Regions from separate parts of the Homo sapiens genome. Here region 2 is linked to region 1. The links come from fine-mapping of genetic effects on gene expression. A gene starts in region 1. The other region holds a variant in brackets. All regions are shown on one strand. Distances are from middle to middle. Region 1 holds the start of MECOM-AS1 (MECOM antisense RNA 1). Region 2 overlaps MECOM (MDS1 and EVI1 complex locus).

Region 1 (8,515 bases):
CACCATGTAAGAAGTGCCTTTCACCCCCCGCCATGATTCTGAGGTCTCCCCAGTCATGTGGAACTGTAAGCTCAATTAAACCTTTTTTTCTTCCCAGTCTCGGGTATGTCTTTATCAGCAGCATGAAAACAAGTAAATTGGTACCAGTAGAGTGGGGTGTTGCTGAAAAGATACCCGATGACTTTGGAACTGGGTAACAGGCAGAGATTGGAACAGTTTGGAGGGCTCAGAAGAAGACAGGACAATGTGGGAAAGCTTGGAACCTCTTAGAGACTTGTTGAATGGCTTTGATAAAAATGCTGATAGTGATATGAACAGTAAGATCCAGACTGAGGTGGTCTCAGATGGAGATGAGGAACTTGTTGGAAACTGGAGCAAAGGTGACTCTTACTATGTTTTAGCAAAGAGACTGGAGGCATTTTGCCCCTGCCCTAGAGATCTGTGGAACTTTGAACTTGAGAGAGATGATTTAGGGTATCTGGCAGAAGAAATTTCTAAGCAGAAAAGCATTCAAGAGGTGACTTGGGTACTGTTAAAAGCATTCCATTTTAAAAGGTAAACAGAGCATAAAAGTTCAGAAAATTTGCAGCCTGATGATGCAGTAGAAAAGAAAAACCCATTTTTTGAGGAGAAACTGAAGCCAACTGCAGAAATTTGCATAAGTAGGAAGACCATGGGGAAAATGTAACCAGGCCATGTCAGAGACCTTCATGGCAGCCCCTCCCATCACAGGCCTGGAGGCTCAGGAGGAAAAAGTGGTTTTGTGGGTGGGCCCAGGGTCCCCATGCTGTTTGTAGTCTAGGAATTTGGTGCCCTGTGTCCAAGCCACTCCAGCCATGGCTGAAAGGAACAAACATAGAGCTTGGGCTGTGGCTTCAGAGGGTGGAAGCCCCAAATCTTGGCAGCTTCCAAGTGGCATTGAGCCTGTGAGTACACAGAAGTTACGAATTGAGGTTTGGGAACCTCTGCCTAGATTTTAGAAGACGTATGGAAATGCCTGGATGCCCAGGCAAAAGTTTGCTGCAGGGACGGGGCCCTCATGGAGAACCTCTGCCAGGGCAGTGCAGTAGGGAAATGTGGGGTCACAGCCCCCACACAGAGTCCCTACCGGGACACTTTCTAGTGGAGCTGTGAGAAGGGGACCACCATCCTCCAGACCCCAGAATGGTAGATCCACCGACAGCTTGCCCTGTGCACCTGGAAAAGCTGCAGACAATCAGTGCCAGCCCATAAAAGCAGTCAAGAGAGAGGCTCTACCCTGCAAAGCCACAGGGGCAGAGCTGCCCAAGACCATGGGAACCCCCTCTTGCATCAGTGTAACCTGGATGTGAGACCTGGATTCAAAGGAGATCATTTTGGAGCTTTAAATTTGACTACCCCACTGGATTTTGGACTTGCATGGGCCCTGTAACCCCTTTGTTTTGGCCAGTTTCTCCCATTTGGAATGGCTGTATTTACCTAATACCTGTACCCCCATTGTAGCTAGGAAGCAACTAGGTTGTTTTTGATTTTACAGGCTCATAGGTGGAAGGGAGTTGCCTTGTTTCAGATGAGACTTTGGACTGTGGACTTTTGAGTTAATGCTGAAATTAGTTAAGACATTGGGGGACCATTGAGAAGGCATGATTGGTTTTGAAATGTGAGGACATGAGATTTGGAGGGGCCATGGGTGGAATGATATGGTTTGGCTGTGTCCCCACCCAACTCTCAACTTGAATTGTATCTCTTAGAATTCCCACGTGTTGTGGGAGGGAACCAGGGGGAGGTAATTGAATCATGGGGGCCAGTCTTTCCCTTGCTACTCTCATGATAGTGACTATGTCTCACGAGATCTGATGGGTTTATCAGGAGTTTCCGCTTTTGCTTCTTCCTCATTTTCTCTTGCCACTTGCCCTGCCATGATTCTGAGGCTTCCCCAGCCATGTGGAACTGTAAGTCCAATTAAACCTTTTTTTCTTCCTAGTCTCAGATATGTCTTTATCAGCAGCATAAAACCGAACTAATACAGACACTCTCCACGCTACACAAATAAGCCTGGTCTTCCACAGAGCCACCTTGCCCTGAGTTTACATCATAGAACTTGCTAAGCTACCCTCCCTTTCCTGATAATTAAGTGGGTAGTAGTTATGTGTGTTGTGCGTTATCTTTATCTACCTTTATTATCTTAAATCCCACACCTGCACCCACTGTGAGGTCACTATTACTGTTTTTTCAGTTAAGGAAATAAAGACTGAGAGAGCTTCTCATGATCATATACCTGGTGTCAGAACCAAGATTTGAACCCAAGTCTGCCTGATTCAAAAGCCCATGCTCCTAATGACTATGCAGTGCTACTGCCCTCATCCCTATCAGGATGGCTTGTTCAGGGGGTGCACCAAGCTTTAGGCACTCCCTGCACATGCCATTGTGGTTCACTAAGTGGAAAATTAATTAACAGTTACTGAATTTTCAGTTATTTTTTTCAGTATAATTTTGTCAACAAATAAATACTTACAGGTCTAAGAATTTTTTATGTTATGAAAAGGGATCCTCATTGTAAAATATTGAAATCCAACTCCTTCATTTTATCTACAATCTAGAAGATTCTACATTAGTTCAAGTCGTCCTCATCCTTGAGATGTAAAAGAAATTGCTCTGAACCACCCAATTTCTTGACCCCTTGTGAAGATGTCTACAATTCCCAAGGGTGGAAGAATTAAGTCTTATTGGTGCCCTCTGCCACCCATGCCCTAGAGTTCTCCTGCTCCACCTCCATCTTCTCCTATAAAAATGCACCTTCTCATTCAGTAGCTAGAAGGTGGCCAGGCAAAGCAGGCATTTTGTAAATTTTAGTTGACTGGGGGAGGGAACAGATGAATAATGCAGGATGTGAGGCTTTGTAGGTTAAGATCACAAGAAGAGGTGGATGGTTATCTACTATCTCCCCCCACCAAGAACTTTTCTGACTCTGAGTTTGAGATGTCCAAAGAAAGGCAGAATCATACCTTTCTCATTGATTCTTATGTTTACAAAGTACCTTTATAAAGCGTCTACTGTGTTCCAGGTACCATGTTAATTTCTAGAAGTAAAAATGTCAACTCTGTCACTGTCTTCAAGGAATCCATAGTGGGAAGCAGAGCACACAAACAGATGTTTACAGCACAACATGATGAGTGGTTTATTACACACAAAGTATTCAGGAAACAACTAAGAGGAAGAAAAACCATCTCCACCTGGAAAGACTGGAAAGGCTACACACCAGAGCTCAAATTTGAAATACATCTCGAACAAGGATTTGGCCATGCCAAGACAGTTGAGTGGAAGGAAGTACATTCTAGGCAAAGAAAAAGCACAAATGTGACCTACAAATGAAAGATTGGTGAGTAACTCTGCATAGCTGGAATATAGGCATAAAAGAGAAGGCAAGAAATGAAGCTGAAATGGTAAGTCAGAAGTGTATTATTTAAACCCTTGTTTGTGGTGCTAAATGGCTGGGCAACTAGGAGTCATGGTGTGATCAGATCTGTAGTTTGGAAATTCAACTGGAAACTGCTATGGATGAGAGCTAGGAGAGGGGAGAAATTAGAAGCTATTATAGTGATGATGGCAACCAATGGTGAGGTGATCTTTAGGTCATCACTGGAACCTGACCTATAGTAGACATTCAAAAAATATTTTCATGTAATTGAATTTGTCTCATGAGCTCCTTGATCTAATATACTGAGCAACTAGCCTTGCTACCATATCTTGTAAAATGCCACTCGTGTTATACGTTGTGGGAATGCTTAGGTGCCTGACCAGGATTTTAAGAAGATATAGAACTAACTTAGTATTTATTTATAGGTCGCCCATCACATGCTAAGCATCTTCTATACATTATCTCATTTGTGCCACACAACAATCCTTCAAGACAGTGTTTTCACCATTTTACACAGGAGTAAAATGATGTTCAGAGTAACTAATAAACAAATTTATCCAACTAGGGGTAAAGCCAGATTTTTAATTCAGTGTACATCTAACTTCAAAGGCACCTGTAAATTTGGGATATTATGGCAAGAGAGGTACTGGTAAAGCCACATTATCTTTAATCAAATATTTTAGAATAGCATCCACAGGAGTGTGCATGTGAGACCCCTGGCCTGGGAAGAGGAGTTTGCATCCTGATTTCCTTTTTCACTGCATATGGCAGCAAACCATAATGAGTCAGACATTGTCATAACACATTGCATAATTCCAATGAAGCATTCACATCTCAACTACTCTTGATTATTTCCAATTCCGTAATAAATGAAAGAGATCAACTGTTCGGTGGTTTGAGGAGGGTGGAAAATCATTTAATTCTTAAGTACCATTAAATATTTAATACTATTATAAGGAGGTAATGTCACTTTCCATAATACATTTGGCTTCAGGTACACTGGAATCCAGATTTTGACACCTCCATACCATGATAAATTTTTGACCCTGAAATTTTATTTGAAATCACGACTCCAAAATCTCCTGTAGCCAATCTACCAGGAGTAGTATCTGTCAACAGAGAGAACATCATATAAAGACCTTAACATTTTGAAAGCAAAGCCAAATGAAGCTCAATCACGAAAGGTCTTTTCTTTCTTTAAGGTGAGAGATGGAGCACAAATGAAGCATACCATGGTAAATAGGAACTGTGCTCACTTGCAGTCATGCACTATAGCCATTAAGCCTTAAGGTCTTAAGGTACTAAGCAATGCATATGATAAATTTCTCAAAAACATCCCAGCCATAACATAGTTCTTGCTGATTGCTCATTTACCCATAATGCATGCTGTCATAGCAAAGCCTGACAAATGACAGAGAAAGCTCAGGTTATTTTTTACACTGACTGCCAAGCCCCTCACCTCAGATTATTCATTTATTAGGGCAATCACTGAGGTCTGGGTACTTAATATTGTTTTCACCAAATATGAAAATGATCTACTTGCCTATTCTTTAGTTCCTCCTAGGGCAAGCCATTTATCATCAGCTCAGGATAAATGACTGCTTCATTATAGCTATAATTTATGAGGTGTTAGAAGTAAAGAGCCACGCCTAGAGACTTAAAGCTTTAATATGGATTAAAATAAGATAATCAATCAAGCTAATACAAATTTTCCCTCAGCATTATTTCTTGTTTTGAAATAGCTTAATAATTTGGTGAGGTGGCGGTAAGCTATGTTGAATATCCCATTATCCAACTACATGCATGTATGTCTGAGACAATACGTAAAGAAATATAGGATGTGATACCATCGGAAAAAAAGAAATACAATGAAACCATCAGCTGTAATTGGCTGAAATCCTCACTTTCCTTAATGGTGTCAAACTGGAGACCAAAGAATTACAAAGCAGGTGTAAACTTGGGTAGCATATTCCCTCTAATTCTTTTTCCTCTGTAAGAATATTGTAGAAAGATTGCTGCTGTTTTACTTTTCCTTATTCTCTCTACAACAAAGAAACACTGGGGAGAAAAGTTATGTCCCAATAACATGTCAACAATTTTGCTTTCTTTTATGTCTGAAGGTTTCACAACTCATAATTTGGACAAGAGCAGCTTCTTACTCTGTCTAGGGAATAAAGAATATTTCCCTCTAAAATGGCATTACGGACTTTAAAGAAATTTTTTCTGGTTTGCATCTCAATTTTATAGTTATTAGGCTATGCCAGAACAAATATTATTTCTGAAATATGTGTCATGCTCAAGACACTAACGTAAACCTATTTGGCCACTTGAGTGAAAAGCTTTGAAGACTGTACGGGAAATTCACGATTTAGTACTTTAAACACACAGCACCAGGAAGAAAATCACCACAAGAATTAACAAATCAGCAGTCTAAAGCCAAAGACTCCAAGGTGCTAATTAAAAAAGCTTCCAAAAGTTCTTGTTATTTTTTTTAAGGCCATGTTCCTTGCAGGTGAGACAAATAGGCCCCTGCTGCCTCCAAGCAAATCTTGAAGGAAACTTCCAGCAAGGCCTGGTGACTGGAAACTACTCAGCCTTGAAATTAACATCCCTAAGAAAAACCTTTTCCACTCCCTCTAGACAACAGCAGCTTACATCTTCAGGACAAAACGAAAAAAAAAAAATGATGACAAAAAAGAGGCCAGAGAAGACAGTTGGAGTAGTCACGCTGTGTTCTCTTGAAGGGAGCCTTCATTCTTTACCTCAGAGAGAGAGCGTGAAAACACACAGATCCTGACAATGGATTTAGTCAACGTGGCCAATCTCCCTACTTCCTTACACGTACATACCACTGAGTTTACCTTAAAAAAGTAAAAGCAGAAATTTTCACAAAAGCTGTGCATCAGGAGCTGTTATTACAAATGAGGCCAAGGCTCTGCATAAGAAGAAAAGGATCTTTCACAAGTTCATAATGGGAACCGAATGCAAAAGCCATATAATTATAATCCAGAATATGGCATCCTATGATATAAAATATTTCCACTTAGCTTAACTGTTTTCCATTCAATATTATTTCCAGCAATAAAAGCCTCTGGAATATCACTCAAACTGGTTCAAGTTAAATTCCAATCTAGATCTTTGTTAGCTAAAGGACATTTTTTTAATCCAGTCATCTTTCTCCACCCTACACATAATTCAACAACAGCCCTTCAACAGGGATAAAACAATTTAAGCTCTGAAGTTGTTCTATGCATGTGTGTGTGAGATTTTCATGCCCTATGTATTTGGACTGAAAATACTTCTCTCTGTCTCTCTCTCATTTAGACTTTATTTAAGATGGTGAAAAAAAAAAAAGCAAAATGTGATATTCACAAGTGCGCAGCATCTTATTTCCCATTTAAAAAGTATTCTGTAAAGAAAAGTCTTATACATAAAAAGAACTCTACTTGTAAAAATGAATAGGAATATGTACTATGAAAATATTAACCATCTTAGCTGTGAAGAGGTTCCAGTGGTTATAAAGAGAAGGGAAAGTAGATAGAAAGCTCTGGCTTGGCTGTTGGGTTTTTGGTTTGCTTGTTACATGTTTACCTGTTTGTTTAACACTACATATATCTCCAGGTACTCCACCATCCATGTCATCAACTGTGGAAAAATGTCCCATTCTTTCTTATGCCTATTTCTTAGAAGTTCCAGATAGTGAGGGAAAATATTCTAGGTCTCAATGAGCAATGTTATAAATTATATTTTGTATGCTACACTTTAGAGAGATGTCTTTAGTGTATTATACCATTGATGATTCTTGTGATTTTTATTTCTATGTAAAATACAGTTTACACAAAATTTCTATCGCTTAGTGAGACATTCATAATTACATATGAATAAGAATTACAGAAGACATTAAAATGTTTTCATAATAGATGTGGAAAAAAGCTATCCTGCGAGCATGTTTAAAATAGACATGGTTTGCCTTAAACTGAGGCATAAAGCCCCACTGCTAACTGATAATTTAAAGCACAAAGATGGGGAACTGTTTTTCTCCTTACTTCTGCTTGTCTGTTTATCTGATGAAATGTTCAAATAATTCCTCTTCTCAAAATACTAGTCTCTAGTAATGCTTTTTTATATATGTGATCCCTCAAGGTAGTCCTTCCCAAATAATAGCCATCGATTTTTAAAAAAACTTTGAATGGATCAAATCTTCCAATAGACATCAATCAATATTCTCAGATGCTTTGGTAAGCCGGGTCATCACTACTCACGGCCGATGCCCAACTACAGCTTGGTAGACTGGCAGAGCAAAGCTGATTTCTTTGAAAGGCCAAGTGATAGAGGTCAAGCTTGAGACTGCTTAGGAAACACACGCCTTTCCCTTATTTGTAGGACAAAAATGATTGTTAAAAATTTTTAAATTAAATAAGTTAACATTTTAAAAATTAAATAAGTTAACATATGGGAAATCCATTGGTAAACTGAAATGCACTACATAAATCTATGATGGATCAATGTTGATATTATTATTTCTGTTAATTATATTATGCATCTTCCTTCATGAGTCAGTCAGAATTTAGAAGATATTTACATTGTATTGGAATTTGTTGATTCAGTTCTAGGAATACAAACTCAGCATCTACCACGTAAAGGAACACAGTACTAGACACAAAGGGGATGTGTATCATGGATGTCAAGTCCCTGCTTTCTAGTAGCTCACAGTTTCAAACAACTAAAATGCAGTTCTGCGCCGGCTTCAGAGGGGCCAGGTTTCCCACAAGGCCTGGAATTGACCAATAGCTGAGCACACATACTTGCCATATATTTCTTGAATGAGTGAGTGAATGAATGAATACCTAATTTGGCTAACCCTGGGTATCATCCTTATTTTCATCATCTACTAAAAATTAGAGTTGAATATTTCTATTTTTCTGTAAGGTTTGAAAATAACAAAAAATTATTTTCAATAAGCTAGGCATGAGAAAAAGCAATGGCAGCTACATATTTTTCCATAGCTTTCATTCCCTAATCACTTCTTGCATAGTTATACACAGAACTTTAACTGCTGGCTTTTTAAGGGAAATTTCTCAAATGCAAACAAATATATTTCACCAAATAAAATCCTTA
Region 2 (8,515 bases), 28 kb after region 1:
GAAAAGAGAGGAGAGGAGAGGAGAGGAGAGGAAAGGAAAGGAAAGGAAAGGAAAGGAAAGGAAAGAAAAGAAAAGAAAAGAAAAGGAAAGGAAAGGAAAAGAAAAGAAAGGAAAGGAAAGGAGAGGAGAGGAAAGGAAAGGGAAGGGAAGGAAAGGAAGAAAGGGAGGGAGGGGGAAGGAAGGAAGGAAGGAAGGAAGAAGAGAGGGAGGGAAAGAAAGTAATATAAGCCTTAGTGTTCATTTTTTCAAATTGTTCAATTTATAGAAAATCCTAATCATGTGTTTAACCGACATAAAGTTCAAAGACAAGGTCTTAATGACTGCTTACTATTGTGGTAAGACAAATATGTCACATGTTCTAAAAATCAATCAAAATATTTACTAGGCCCCTACTTTGTCCCTACCTGGTAGTTATCAATATGTAGACACCACCCAGATACCATGCCAAATGTCAAAGATTTTTAAATCAGAGAAAAACCTAGAGAAGGAGTCATTAGCATCCAACAGTCTCCTGGTTTCCAAAAGGAGGTCCACCACAGTGGTTCCAACCTGTGAGAGAATCAAAAGTAATCTTGGAAGCTTTGTCAGAAATACAGAATCCTGATTTCTACATTAGATCTCTAAGGTAAATAAGGCTGTCTGGAAGTAGATTCAGGAATTTGTACTTTTGAAACTTCTCTGGTGATCAGAATGATCACCCTATCTACAAACTGCTGATTTATCTGGCCTTCATCCTAATCCACAGGCTAGCCAAAAACACAAGAGCGAATATATGAGGTTCCCAGCCACTGAAAAAAGAGAAAAGAGAGACCACTATCCCTAAATATTGTGAAACTTGAAATTCAGCAACACGATTTTGAGAACATTAAGAAGTCACTACTTTCTTGCTGTCCTACAGGTTAGGCGAAGGAAGAAATATGTTTAAACACCAGATACGGCAGGGCGTGGTGGCTCATGCCTGTAATCCCAGCACTATGGGAGGCTGAGGTGGGTGGATCATGAGGTCAGGAGATCGAGACAATCCTGGCCAACACAGTGAAACCCTGTCTCTACTAAAAATACAAAAATTAGCCGGGTGTGGTGGCACACACCTGTAGTCCCAGCTACTCAGGAGGCTGAGGTAGGAGAATCACTTGAATCTGGGGGGCAGAGGTTGTAGTGAGCCGAGATTGCTCCACTGCACTCCAGCCTGGTGACAGAGCCAGACTCCCTCTTAGAAAAAACACAAAAACAAAAACAAAATACCAGACACTATTAGTTTTGGGTACAAGAGAGGGAAGCCAATTACACATATAGCAAAAGAGAAGGAAGAATAAATACTATATATATGTAGTATTCATTATATCTATAGATAGATAGATAGATAGATAATTGAATCTATAGACAGGTTCTCAGAGAGAAAGAATACGCTCGCATCTTTCCTCCCTTTTCCTATGAGCACGACTCAACAGGACAGATTGGGTCAGTAGCTTAGGTAGAAATGGTCCAGGTTTGAGAATGCTAATGAGCATGTCAAACAATTTAGTCAGTCACCACGTGCCACCTCTCATTCACAAGATGAATTTCTTTTGTAGTGGCACATTGAAGGGAGAGGTTTAAATAGACCTTGTGGAAGGATCTGCATCAATAATAATTTCCAAGCAATCCCACTAGGAAGACAACTGTCTAAAGTCAGCCGAGAGAGCAAACAACAACAAACTTCATTACTATCTTTGGTATTTTGTAAACGTCAGTTCCTGAAGTCCAGCCTTCCAGCCTAATGCTCCATACTAGAAAAAGCCACTTACCCAACACCCCTATCATTCTTTCCTTTTTTCAATATACGGTTTATTAATATAGATGTCAGTCTGTACTTACAACCCAACATAAAATATCCTTGAAAATGGAATGTCAACAGAATGGTAATATACCACCTTGGGTTGATGGGACAGTTTTATTGCAACAGCTTAATTTTTATCAATATTATATAAATTATATTGTTACAATCATATATATTTATGATTAGATATAAAGTAACTGCTTTTTCCCTAATGCTAAAAACTCTATTATGTGAAACCTTGGTGTTAAAAGCAGGGTTTGAGGTTGGCAGCCCATGTTTTGTGTAATAACTGCTAATCCTCCACCAAAGAAGAGAAATCATTTGGAAGATACAAAAACTCTGAGTTTTTTATGCTCTCTGAAACCTATGTCATCAATGTGGATTAATATTTGCCCCCAGAATGATTCTGCAGGTGAGAAGAGATAACTGATATATATTAGCTTAGTGTCTAGTACTTAACCACCCATTATGATGGTATCTAATCAATCTATATTGATATCTGTCTGCCTACCTCATAAAATCTGTAGGTAGATACTATTATCCCATATTACAGAATAGAATACTGAGGTTCGATAAAGTTACATGTATTACCCTAGATCTCATTGCTAGTAGGGGCCAAGCTGAGTTCCAATTTCAGTTTTTGTGATTCTTAAAGCCTGAACAACTCCTACTGTATTCTCCTCAGGCCAACAGTCTGAATTACTAACACAGCACGTAAACAATCAGAACAGAGTCCATGTATTTATTGGTAACAAATGCACATACAAATCACTTGAAATTCCTTTTAATGATAACATAGCATATAATTCTATAGGGGAAAAAAGACAATTTGTGCTCTTATTTGTTGCCAATGGTTGCACTTCATTCTGAAAGTCATTTAATATTGAAATAAGTATCTTTCATGATTATCCTAATATAACCATTTTAGTTCTAACCCTGACAAGCAGCAAACTTTGTCCCCTGGCCCAACTTTATCAAGACGGTTGAAGTGTTTTTTTAAGTTATTCCCATTTTGCTTCTGGAAAAACTGGGCACAGGATGTTTCATGACCTTCCTCTTATGCACCCTGGGACTGAATTTGATCACAGTGACAAGCCAAACTGAGAATTTCTAAGGCCAGGAATACGGGCTGCCCTTTCTTTTAATGGACACATGGATGAAATGGTAATGTTTCCTTAGCACATTAAAAATAGTGACTAAAAAGTCGAAGTTTTTTTTTTTTCCGAATCTAATAGCTGTCTTAAATCGGGTAGAAAAGAAAGACGCAATCATTCCTTAAATGCATATTTAAAATTCACCAAGCCAAAGCCAGTCTTGCCAGATTTTGTAATCCTTTCCATAGTCTTTGTAAAGTACCTAGCTTGCCAATTAAAAAAAAAGGGGGAGGAGGAGGGAAACCTCAAGTGGTTTTTAACCACCAATAACAAAAACGACAAAGGTATTTTGAAACATCAGTTGCTGCTAGTTAGGAGCTAGCATGGATGTCTCTGGCTCAAAGATAATTCTTGCTCATGTTGGGTTTTTTTTTATTGCAACAGTATAAAATCAGATAAAGATAAATAAAATGAAATGGAAGCACAGAGATATTTGCTCTAAATATGGCTAAAGTGAATTTGTGGCTTGATGCCACTTTTCGCAGCTTTGTTCTCCCTAATCTAATTATGCCTTGAAGTTGTCTGCATTTGAGAAATTAATACTTTGATGAAATATCTAGCCAGTTCCATAAGCAGCAGAGGGAGAGGAAAGGGAAACATATATATAGTATTAACTCTGCCAGCCTTCAACCACCACAAGACCTCCTGGGCACAACAGTGGCCCACTAATAAAATGAAATGATAGCATATGTGCTTTGTTTAATTTTGATGTCTTCATAATGTATTACACAATTAGATTGATTTGACAATTTCCATTATGCTTGATAAAATATTTATTGAGCCCTGAAGATGATAACTCTTATCTAACCACCATTTGTTCTACAGATGTGACATATTTAATATATAAGTAACATCACTCAGATCTATGTTCCAGTTAGCCCATTACATTTTATTTGCAGAGTACAGTGTAAAGTCATCAATAACGCTTTGATAGATCCCTGTCTGCCCGGTGCTTGACAGGTGCGGAGAGAGCTTGCTCACATTCAGCGGCAGGGGCACATCAATCATGGCCAAGAAATTTACTGTGTGAAATTGGCCTCATCTGTCTCAATGCTTGATGCAGATCGAGTTTGTTCTTCTGATAGAGGTGTCGTTAGTCACCTAAGCATGCCTCCCTTGGTACTCATGCTCTCTGCAAGTAATCTTTTTTTTCTCCCCCTTCTCCCCCTTCCCTTTACATATTTTTGTGAAATTAAAATCTCGCCCTCCTGTGACCCTAATCCACATATTCTTGGCCAAAACAGGAGCCAGGTGACCTTTGAGATTACCCTTGTGAAGCCTTGCAGGTTGAGTGGAAGAAGATGCTATTTTTTGTTGATGCTGTTCTTTTTTTTTTTCTTTTTCTCCCCTAACCTCACAGGCAACATGTTCCACTGATGAGAAAACCGGCAAAGACAGGTTAGGCAGAAGAAAAGAGAGATGAGACAACGGACTGTGCCAACAAACTAAAATTTTACCTGCTGCTATGGATAAAATAGCTTTCTTTTTAGAAATACTCATGTTAATAAACTCCTACATGCGACATAATATGTGCCTAGAGGTCTGGATAAGTAAGATGTGTGTGTGTGTGTGTGTGTGTGTATATATATATATATATATATATATATATATATATATATATATACACACACACACAATTTCATTTGCAATAGGAAGTCTTCACACTGCAAAGGTCTAGGTAGATTCCTAGTTAAATGGCATTTCAAATTAAGGCATCTACCCCTGTCAAAGGAGAACTCCAAATGGTAACTGGCTCCCACAACTTCGAAGTGCTGCTGAGACCCTCATCAGCTTTTATCTTTGCGCCCCGTCATTCTCCCATGGGCAAAGAATTGCACAAAAATCTTGGAGTAAACACAAACAAGTGCCAAAATGAAGACCATCAATGATCCAAATCCTTGCAAGGTATAAAAGAGAATTTTTTTCTGAGTCCCGAAGTCAAGATTGTTATAGGCTGCAGGATTTTTATGTGAGAATGGAATTGTAAGATTAATCTTTGGCCAAGAGCACTTCTCTGTTTCTTGCAAAGGATTAG[C/T]TGACTTAAACTAGAGGCTCTGCGTCCTGCTCCTGGAGCTGCAGTCAGCTGTTTTTCCTTTGTGGAGCTTCCTGATATGCCCAAACACCTTTCTTCTTAACCTTTGTAGTTATTTCAGTATTTACTTCATTCTAAATCCTTATGCAGACTTTTTTTTTGCTTTCCAAGGCAAACCTTGTAGATAGCCAATCTGTACTGTTTCCACCAAATTAATGTGAGAGCTTGTTTTAGCAACTGCAAAACAAAAGTGATACACGGCTTCAATAAGACATATTATCTTCAGAACCTGTAAAAGTTGAGACTATCTCTAGACAAAGCGCAAGCACAGGATAGTCCTACCACTGCAGTCAAAATACCACAGAAGCTACATGCCACAGCAGGATGCCTGTCGGATAGACAATTAAAGTGGCCCAGGAATGACATATCCCCTCTTGCCAACATAATTAAGGTGTATTATTTGTCAGGGAGGTCAACGGTGAACAAATGTCCTAGCAAACTGAGAATGAAAGACAGGGAAGGAGCAGATAATGAAATTCAGGGATGACAAATGGCTCGGAGCCTGACACCGTGGCATCTGACAAAGAGAGACATCCAATGGCTCTGAAACTTTTCCTGGTGCTCTGGAAGGCTCTTGGATTTGGGGCATTTTTACATAAAGGATGTTGCATGTATCATTAATGTCATTCCATTTCCTTATAGAAAAGTATTAATATTGACAACTGTAGAAGAATGATATTGTCAAGGCAGAATTCAATATGCGGTATGGTTTTTGTCATGTGTACTCACTCTGCTGCTCCTTTGTGTCCTATCTACACTTGTTTTACAGCCACCTAGAGTAACCAGCCTATCTCCACTTTTCCCATTACTTGTTAATAGCTATTGTGCAGATAAAAATGCCTCAGAGTGACCTATAGGGACACCTCTGCCTTTGGCCAAGCACCCCCACAAGTGAGGGTACGAATACTTCCCAAGCTAAGCCAAGATTGAGTTATGTTCAGACAATAAGTATCACCAATTACTACCCTTCAGTTGTTCCCAGATACCAAAGGCTTAACCACCCACGGGAATAGCGACTGGTGCCTGCCACTTCCCTAAGGTTGTGTGTATTGTGCTAGGATATTTGATAGACTTGAGTATTATGGCTTAAAAAAACTATACAGGAGAAGGGATGCCAATTCCTAGGCTAAACCAGCTTCCTTTGTGAACAAATATCTGGGGGTGTTCCTCTGTGATAAAAACCATTTACGTCATTTTAGGCCCATTTTTAACCATACTGGGTCATTTTACAATTCAGAGAGCACAGATTAACCATACAGAGCCAGCAGTTATTGATGTGGAACACAGTAGGACTCCACAATCTTGTAATGCTACAATGATGTAGTCACTAATTTGTTTCTGCATCTAGCATTATTTATTCACCAAAATATTTGTTGATCACCTATTATGTACCAGGCATAGAACTGAATGGGAGGGCCACAGTAGTGATTCAGACAAACATAATCCCTGTCTTTACTAATACTGTAGCCAGAAAGACAGACATTAGCCAACATCTACCAAGATAACTAATTAGTCATAAATGTGATAAGTAGCAGGAGGAATGCTGGAAAAGCTTTTGACCAGCAAATCTAACATACGCTAGGGTCTCAGGCAGGAAGTGACACTTAAGGTGAGATATAAAGCAAGTAGGAATTCACATAGATAGGGATGTGAGTGTGTGTGTGTGTGTGTGTGTGCAAGAGACAGAGATGAGCAGCAACAAGAAGGAAAGGGAGGCGTCTAGGAACAGTATCTCAAGCAGAGGTAACAAAGACCCTAAGAAAGGAGAAAGTTTGGGTTGGTGGAGGAAAGAATGAAGCCCAGTGTGGCTGGAGCATAGACAGTGGAGGAGACGGTCACAAGGGTGAGGCTGGAAAGACAGGCAGGGCCAGACCATGCAAGGCTTTGAAGGCTCTTCTAAAGATTACGGCCTTCACATGCCTCTGCAATTAGAGAAAGCACTGGAAGTAAAGCCAAGCAGATATCAGCCAATGTGTCTGAGCAGTAAAGATATGGAGGTGAATGAAACGTCTCATTTTCAGATTTTCTCTTACCTAAAAAAAAAAAAAAAAAAAAAAAAATTTGCCTGATTCTCAGGCACAAATTTAGAAAGCAGACACATTTGGTGATATAACCACTAAAACTCATGCCTAATGTCTTCTAAATTTTATGGCCTTTTCCTTATAGGGACCTGAAAAGCTCTTGACAAGGCAGGAACGTGACTAATATAATTGAGCACATACTCTGTCCCAGGCACTGTGCCAGGCACCTTTAAAATCTCTTATTTTAATACTCACAAAAATGTTAAGACAAATTCCCCATTTTTTAACTGAAACAAATACAGAGTAAGTAAATTGTCCAATATCAGAAAACTACCAAGAGGCCTGAATGCTAATCCATCTGACTCCAGATTCGATGTACTTTCCACAGTGAAGACAATGGACTTTTTTCTACATTGATTCGCCTTTTGGTCAAAGTGGAGTCATCACTATTGGTATAAAAAAAGTATGATGATGGTTTTCTGTAGGTTGCCAAAGACTAACATATTGACATGTGAAGAATTCAAATATAATTGTGTTTTTTCAAGCAAGCTAGTGCTGTCTTCTTTTTATTTAATTGAAAGAGCTTCTTTATCACATATACTGTCCCATGAATACCTTCCATCCTAATCTCCACCTCAAAGCATTGGGCTCTACCTGCTAGCTTGCCTTCAACACTGCAATCTGAGTTCTTCAAGTACTACTGGAGTACTTCCCAGAAGTAGGAACAAAAGGATTTACAAGGTGTATACAGGTGGCTCGCTGGCCCTACACTGCTCTTCCTCCTTCTCATCTGCTCTCAGTCCACTGCTCCCCCAACCCCTTCCCCTGTGGCTGCCATTCCTCTCCTTCTCTTTCCCACTTTTTTTCTCATCTCTTTAGTCACTTTGCCCGTACCATTTATAATACCTCTTTACGTAAATAAGTTGGCCTTTTATATCACCAGCCATTTTTCCTTCCACTAGTCAAAGTATAGGATCCTTTAGTGTTCTCTGCTGTGTTTGTCCAAGCTGGTTGGTTGATGATAGGGCGACCTGGTAACCAATGAGGTGGGTGGTTTTTGTTCTTCAAAAAGGAGATGAAGGGAGATAAGCTGTTTCTGAGCCACATCCTAGAAGCCTGTGCTTTTCAGGAGGCTCCTCTCTGAAGATTAAGGGGCATATTTGTGGATGTGTGTTTTTTGCTGCTACTGTCTGCAGAGTGTCAAGGATCAACACATTAAAAGATGCCATTTTTCCTGGTGTTTCTGAGTTCTTGGGGCGGGGGGGCTTGTTTGTTATTTGTTGTTGTTTTGTTGAGTTTTGTTTTTGCTATCCTCATTAACAATACATGGCACAAAATCTTAAAACACGTTTCTGTACTTCACAAGTCAACAAAAAGAGAGTGTACATTTCTGTTTTAACCAGAAAAAGAATTAAACTTTATAAAAATA

What was found. PIP is the estimated chance that this variant, and not a neighbour inherited with it, causes the effect.
Region 2: its variant is the best candidate, but not a certain one, in a credible set for the expression of MECOM-AS1 in stomach (GTEx, PIP 0.82).

What each region holds. Positions count from the first base shown.
Region 1 is chr3:169,444,514-169,453,028 of GRCh38, forward strand. It overlaps MECOM-AS1 (MECOM antisense RNA 1), which reads left to right and starts at 3,354. Exons shown (of 5, transcript NR_134932.1): 1 at 3,354-3,422. All of the region lies in intron 1 of MECOM (MDS1 and EVI1 complex locus), which reads right to left.
Region 2 is chr3:169,472,553-169,481,067 of GRCh38, forward strand. All of the region lies in intron 1 of MECOM (MDS1 and EVI1 complex locus), which reads right to left. MECOM-AS1 (MECOM antisense RNA 1) reads left to right here. Exons shown (of 5, transcript NR_134932.1): 5 at 4,334-4,500. Among named protein-coding and RNA genes, the nearest start is that of MECOM-AS1, 29 kb to the left of the region's middle. The variant C/T (reference allele first, on the strand shown) is at 5,009.